Homo sapiens: one gene and its partner. Changing the gene in region 1 together with any one later gene gives a genetic interaction. Each region holds a gene or a part of one and is shown on either strand. Other genes may lie near its edges.

Region 1 (3,500 bases):
TAGTAGAGACGGGGTTTCACCATGTTGGTCAGGCTGGTCTTGAACTTCTGACCTCAGGTGATACACTCGCCTCGGCCTCCCAAAGTGCTGGGATTACAGGATTGAGCCACTGCGCCCAGCGCAAGATCTTTGTATGTTATGCTATGTTAATTAAAATATGTATATTTTTACGGAAGTCTTGTCATGTGACGCCTCCACTTAAAACCCTTTAAATGATTATTTGTCACCCTAAAATAAAGTCCAAATTCCTTAGCATCACTCAAAAGTCTGTTACAATCTTATCATTCTCTCTCCCTAAACCACTCTCCTCCTTAAAGTGCCAGCCTAGCAGTTCTAAAGGTACGGTTCAGGAACTCCCCAGGGTCCCCAAGACCTTTCAGGGGGTCTAGGAAGTCAAAATTATTTTTAAAATACTACTAAGATACTGTTTACCTTTTTGCTCTTTTTCTCTCACAATTGTACAGTGGATTGTCCTGGAAGCTCCATAACATGTGAGAATATGATATTATTAAATGCATCAACAACTGTAATATCTATATAACTTAGTCATGGATATTGTCCAAATTACCAATTCATGATGTGACAAAAATCATGCATAGATAAAAGATCTATTCAAGGTGCAACAAAGAGACCAGTTAATTTTATTTCATTTTATTTTTTATTGAGACAGAGTCTTGCTCTGTCACCCAGGGTGGAGTTCAGTGGCATGATGTTGGCTCACTGCAGGCTCCACTTCCCGGGTTCAAGCGATTCTCCTGCCTCAGCCTCCTGAGTAGCTGGGATTACAGGTGCGCACCACCACACCCGGCTAATTTTTTGTATTTTTAGTAGAGACAGAATTTCACCATGTTGACCAAGCTGGTCTTGAATTCCTGACCTCAGATGATCCACCCACCTCAGCCTCCCAAAGTGCTGGGATTACAGGCAGGAGCCACCATGCCTGGCCAATAATATATATGTTTTAATATTTGAAGAAATTTATTCTGAGTCAAATATGAGTAACCATGGCCCTTCAGGAGGTCCTGAAAACATGTACCCAAGGTGGTCGGGTGCAGCTTGGTTTTATACATTTTAGGGAGGCATGAGATCAAATACAATCAAATATATTTAAGAAAAGTCTCAAAATTTTGAAGACTGTAAAGGGGTCCAGGGACTGAGCACAGTGGCTCATACTCATAATCCCAGCCTTTAGGAGGACAAGGAAGAAGGATTACTTGAGGCCAGGAGTTCAAGACCAGACTGGGCAACATAGTGAGACCCCGTTTCCACAAAAAATACAAAAAAAGAAAAAGGAGAAAAAAGAAAAGAAAAAGGGGTCCTGAGAGCAAACTCCTTTTCTCTAGCCATACCAAATTATTTTCAGTTCCTGAACAACATTATGTGATTTTTGCCTCCCACCGTGTACATATGCTTTTCTCTGCTTTGCACACACACTCTCCTCAATGTGCCGGCTAACTCATACTCAACATTCAGGTCTTGGTTTAAACATCACTTCCTCCACAAAGCCTTCCTTGATTGTTCACACTGGACTGGGTGCCTTTCCCATGTATTCCCATAGCAAGGACAGTCCCAACTTAACAATGGTTCACCTTACAATTTTTTGACTTTATTTTTTAATTTTATTTATTTTACTTTTTGAGATGGAGTCTCGCTCTGTCACCAGACTGGAGTGCAGTGGCACAATCTTGGCTTACTGCAACCTCTGACTCCCTGGTTCAAGCGATTCTCCTGCCTCAGCCTCCCAAGTAGCTGGGATTACAGGCACTCGCCACCATGCCCAGCTAATTTTTGTATTTTTAGTAGAGACGGGGTTTCACCATGTTGTCCAGGAGGGTCTCGATCGCCTGACCTCGTGATCCGCCCACCTCGGCCTTGCAAAGTGCTGGGATTAAGGCGTGAGCCACCACACCCCACCTTAATTTTTCGACTTTATGATGGTGTAAAAGAGATACACATTCAGGCTGGGCGTGGTGGCTCAAGCCTGTAATCCCAGCACTTTGGGAGGCCGAGGCAGATGGATCACTTGAGGTCAGGAGTTAGAGACCAGCCTGGCCAACATGGTGAAACCCTGTCTCTACTAAAAATACAAAAATTAGCGGGGCATGGTGGTGCACGCCTGTAATCCCAGCTACTCGGGAGGCTGAGGCAGAAGAATTGCTTGAGCCCAAGGAGATGGAGGTTGCAGTGAGCCGAGATCGCACCACTGCACTCCAGCCTGGGGGACAAGAGTGAAACTCCGTCTCAAAAAAAAAAAAAAAAAAAGAGAGATACGCATTCAGGTCAGGCACGGTGGCTCATTGGAGGCCGAGGTGAGCGGATCACCTGAGGTCAGGAGTTCGAGACCAGCCTGGCCAACACAGTAAAACCCCGTCTCTACTAAAACTACAAAAATTAGCTGGGTGTGGTGGTGCATGCTTGTGGTCCCAGCTACTCGGGAGACAGGCAGAAGAATCACTTGAGCCCAGGAGGTGGAGGTCACAGTAAGCAGAGATCACGCCACTGCACTCCACCCTGGGTGACAGAGTAAGACCTTGTCTCAAAAAAAAATATGAGATACACATTCAGTAGAAATTGTACTTCAAGTGCTCATACATGTAAGCCATTATCCTCAGTGAAATAACTGAGGAATAGAAAGTCAAGGAGGTTGCAGTGAGCTGAGATCAGCCATTGCACTCCAGCCTGGGCGACAGAGCAATACTCCGTCTCAGTAAATAAAAAAAAAGTCAAATACCACATATTCTCACTGATAAGTGGGAGCTACACAACGTGTGCACATATAGAGTGAACTAACAGACACTGGAGAATATAAAAGGTGGGAAGGTGGGAGTGGGGTGAGGGTTGAAAAATTACGTATTGGGTACAGTGTTCACTACTAGGGTAATGGGTATACTAAAAGCCCAGATTTCACCACGATGCAATGTATGCACATAAGAAATCTGCACTTCTGGCTGGGCGTGGTGGCTCACGCCTATAATCCCAGCACTTTGGGAGGCCAAGGCAGGCGAATTACCTGAGGTCGGGAGTTTGAGACCAGCATGACTAACGTGGAGAAACCCAGTCTCTACTAAAAATACAAAATTAGCCGGGTGTAATGGCATTTGCCTGTACTCCCAGCTACTTGGGAGGCTAAGGCAGGAGAATCGCTTGAACCTGGGAGGCAGAGGTTGCGGTGAGCCAAGATCGCGCCATTGCACTCCAGCCTGGGCAACAAGAGCTAGACTCTGTCTCAAAAAAAAAAAAAAAAAAAAAAAATTTTGCCAGGATTGGTGGTGGGCGCCTGTAATCCCAGCTACTTGGGAGGCTGAGGCAGGACAATTGCTTGAACCCGAAAGGCAGAGGTTGCAGTGAGCCAAGATTGTGCCACTGTACTCCACCCTGGGTGACAGAGTAAGACTCCTTCTCAAAAAATAAAAATAAGGCTGGGCGGCCGGGCACAGTGGCTCACGCCTGTAAACCCAGCACTTTGGGAGGCCGAGGCGGAAGGATCACGAGGTCAAGAG
Region 2 (3,500 bases), on another chromosome or scaffold:
TATATAATTGGTTGAATTTTTAAGAAAAGTATGAAGGGAACAAGTAAATGTTTTAGCTAATAAATAGCATATGGTCTGTCCAGGACCTATAATATCAACTGTGTTTGGGGTTTCCTGCCATCTTTGGAGGAAATGTGTATCCATGGTGGTGACAAAGGTGGGGAGAGGCAGACATTGTCATGGGTAAATTCCATGCTCTCAAACATTTAAATAAGAGTGGAAGCTGGTTGAGGCCGGGCGCGGTGGCTCACGCCTGTAATCCCAGCACTTTGGAAGGCCAAGGTGGGCGAATCACAAGGTCAGGAGATCGAGACCATCCTGGCTAACACGGTGAAACCCCATCTCTACTAATAGTAAACTGCAAAAAATTAGCCGGGCATGGTGGTGGGCTCCTGTAGTCCCAGTTACTGGGGAGGCTGAGGCAGGAGAATGGCGTGAACCTGGGAGGCAGAGCTTGCAGTGAGCTGAGATCGCGCCACTGCACTCCAGCCTGGGCGACAGAGCGAGACTCCATCTCAAAAAAAAAAAAAAAAAAAAAAATCTGGAAGCTGGTTGAACTGAGCACTGGCAGGCTTGCAGAGGTATACTTTTCTCAGTCACTGACCAAAGTGGAAGATTCTGGGCAGTGCCTCCAGTATGCCTGCCTCACTCAGCTTTGGTTGTATTGGGGCAGCATCTTTGTCTTGGAACTTTTCTCTTATCGCATTTTCTGTCATGGAGGACTCCCTTCCCTGCAGACCATATCAAGGATCACCTTTGATTTGCTGCTGGGTCCCTCTGGGAGAAGATAGATGTGGAGGTGTGCCCTCTTTCTCTCTCTCTGACTTAGAGATCTATCTATGGAAAGATTTTTTGTTTATTTGAGAAGAGTGAATATTTTGGTTATAAATATATGACATCTTTTTTGGGCAGAGATTCAGATATAGTAGAGATACAATAATATTTATTGTAAAATGGAAGGCAAGTTGTCATAACACCTCTACATTTTCCCTTCCAGATTCAAAACATTTTTTTCCCATGTTGTAGTTAATTATCAAGAGATTAGGCATAAGCTCTGAGTTCATCCTAGGTTTTTCCAGCTGTGAATGTGATGGCTATCAGGCCATACTTATTACAGTTCACTTTAGAAACAGGTCCATTTGCAGATAAGCATGTTTTCTGTATATAGACTCTCCAGCTGTACCTAAATTTGGTCAAAAATTAGACCAAATTAGAAAAATTCAAAATAATTAAAATGCCAACATTTTAATTGCTTTGTAAAACTTGTCATGCACCAAAAAAGAAGGTGCTTGTTCACTGATAAGCATATCAATAACACAGTGAAGGTGTTTGGGACATTTGAGTGTTGAGAGCTTGGCTTACATTAATTAAATGGCAGACAAAGTCTGGAAATACAGTTTTGTATGAGCTAGGATTTGTTTTCCTCTTCAGAGCCTACAACGCTTATGGTTTAAGTAGCCTAGATGGGTTATTCTGTAGACAGAGGAGATCTACCTCTTCTTCAGAAATGTTTCTGCCTTTAAGGGACCTCATTTTGTACGTGAGCAACATTATACCCAAACTCCCAGAATTAAGCATTGCCATTCAAAACATTTCAAAATCTTTTGATTTACCTCTAAATAGATTTAAAATACACTAAAACCTTTAGACAGTTGTCCTTCCCCTAAGCCCTATGGAGATGTATAAACATGCTCTGATAGCCAGACTCTGCTTATAACTCCATTCATAAGAAACCAATAATTTGAGAATATGTTTGTGCTTCCGAGGATTTTAGTAGAACATTATGTTATTGTTTTGGTCAAGTAAACCAAAGTGTAAGTGTGATTCATGATGATACTTGAAACTCTTTCTGCGCAGGGCTTATATTGCTCCCTTCTCTCCTGCTTCTTCCCCGCCCTCTACCTGGCTGATTGTGCCTTCTCACATGGCTGTGTTCTGCCACTCAGCCCTGAAATGTTGGTTTCCCATGCCCTATTCTTTGGCTCTCAATTCTTCTGTTACCTGTGTTCCCCTGAGTAATCTTTTTACCCTCAAATAAAGCTCCCCTCTCTCTTTTAGGCAAGAAACCTATATCTATTGTGTCCTACTATATATTTCCATCTGAATGATTCATAAACATCTTAAATTCAGCAGTTACAGTGTTAAGCCTGTTATCTTTTCTCCCCAAAGTTTCACTGCCTCCTGACGAAAGAATAAACCAACAAGGGAAAATATATGTAAGAAGAAGCAAAAATCAGTGGGAAAAGGATAAGTTATTTAACTGATGGTTTTGGAATTGGTTAGCTATTTGGAGAAAAAGTATCGCTCATTTCACACATCAAAACAAAGTTCATATATATATAATATAAGTTAAATGTCAAATTAAATCCAGAAATATCTAGGAGAATATTTGTTTGTCCTTGGGTTGGGGAGAAACTTTGTAGGCATAAAAGCAAGAAAAAACAGCTAATTAGGCAAAATGGCAATTTGACTACTTTATTCGCCCAACATGTTTATTGACGTAGTAATTCTTTTAGGAATCTGTCCTTGGAAAATAAACATGTGGGCAAAGACTTATATGCAGAGATGTCTATAGCAGATCTATTTTTAAAGGTAGAAAATTGGAAGTAACCACAGTTTCTCAGTGATGGGGGAATCATTGAGTAAATTATAATACATCAGTACAGTACAACATTATGAAGCCACTGATAATGTTTATAATAGACTTTTAGTGACATAGGACAATGCTAAAGATAAAAATTCTAGTGAGATGAATAGAATTTTCATGTAGATTACTTAATCTTCTTTGCATCAGTTTCTTATAAAATGGAGATAATTGACTCATTGGATTTGTGTGAGAATTAAATGAATCAGTACCTTTAAAACACTTAAAACAGTAATTGCATGTAGTAAGTGCTCTTATTAATTAACAGATAATTAACAAGTAATAACAGGTAATTAATTAAAAAGCTCTTAATAATAGGTAAGGTAAATCTTACCTGCTAGCATACCCATAATGATTGGTGGCTTTTATCTTTACAAAGGCTCTCCTGAGTTATTGTGCACAGTTACGTTGCCAGTGAGAGCAAAAGTAAATGCTACACATAACAATTGGTCACTTAACCTTGATTTCACCAGTTAAGTGATCTGCCAACAAAAACTAACCTGGGTATCTCATCACCTCAGAGATGTATAGAGAATTAAGTAAATAATGAAAACCAGTAAAAACTAGTATATGGATAAAATTATTTCTGAATTAGAAATCATTACTTTTATTGCGAAAAAGAAGGCTTATGAGCTTTTTTTTTTCCATCTGTAGTTATTTGGAGTGTTTCTTTGGTTCAACATGGTATTGGCTCTTGATTTAGTAAAAAATTAGGATTGTCACTTAAAACAATTGTTATAATGTATAGTCTTTCTGTAGACATTTCATTCTTCTTCTCTGTCGGTTGTGTCTTCATTCACTCAGCTGGCATATATTGGATGCCCACGTTATGCTAGCCCTTGTGTAGCTCTAGTGA

What was found. Genes that interact genetically often act in the same process or in processes that back each other up.
Region 2: changes in MED24 (region 1) and GATB together harm fitness more than expected from each alone (negative genetic interaction), as found in Homo sapiens cells (one large-scale study listed by BioGRID).

The regions. Positions count from the first base shown.
Region 1 is NC_000017.11:40,047,909-40,051,408, forward strand, and holds part of MED24 (mediator of RNA polymerase II transcription subunit 24), read right to left. Parts: intron 1-3,500. UniProt on the Homo sapiens protein: Component of the Mediator complex, a coactivator involved in the regulated transcription of nearly all RNA polymerase II-dependent genes.
Region 2 is NC_000004.12:151,754,508-151,758,007, reverse strand, and holds part of GATB (glutamyl-tRNA(Gln) amidotransferase subunit B, mitochondrial isoform 1 precursor), read left to right. Parts: intron 1-3,500. UniProt on the Homo sapiens protein: Allows the formation of correctly charged Gln-tRNA(Gln) through the transamidation of misacylated Glu-tRNA(Gln) in the mitochondria. The reaction takes place in the presence of glutamine and ATP through an activated gamma-phospho-Glu-tRNA(Gln).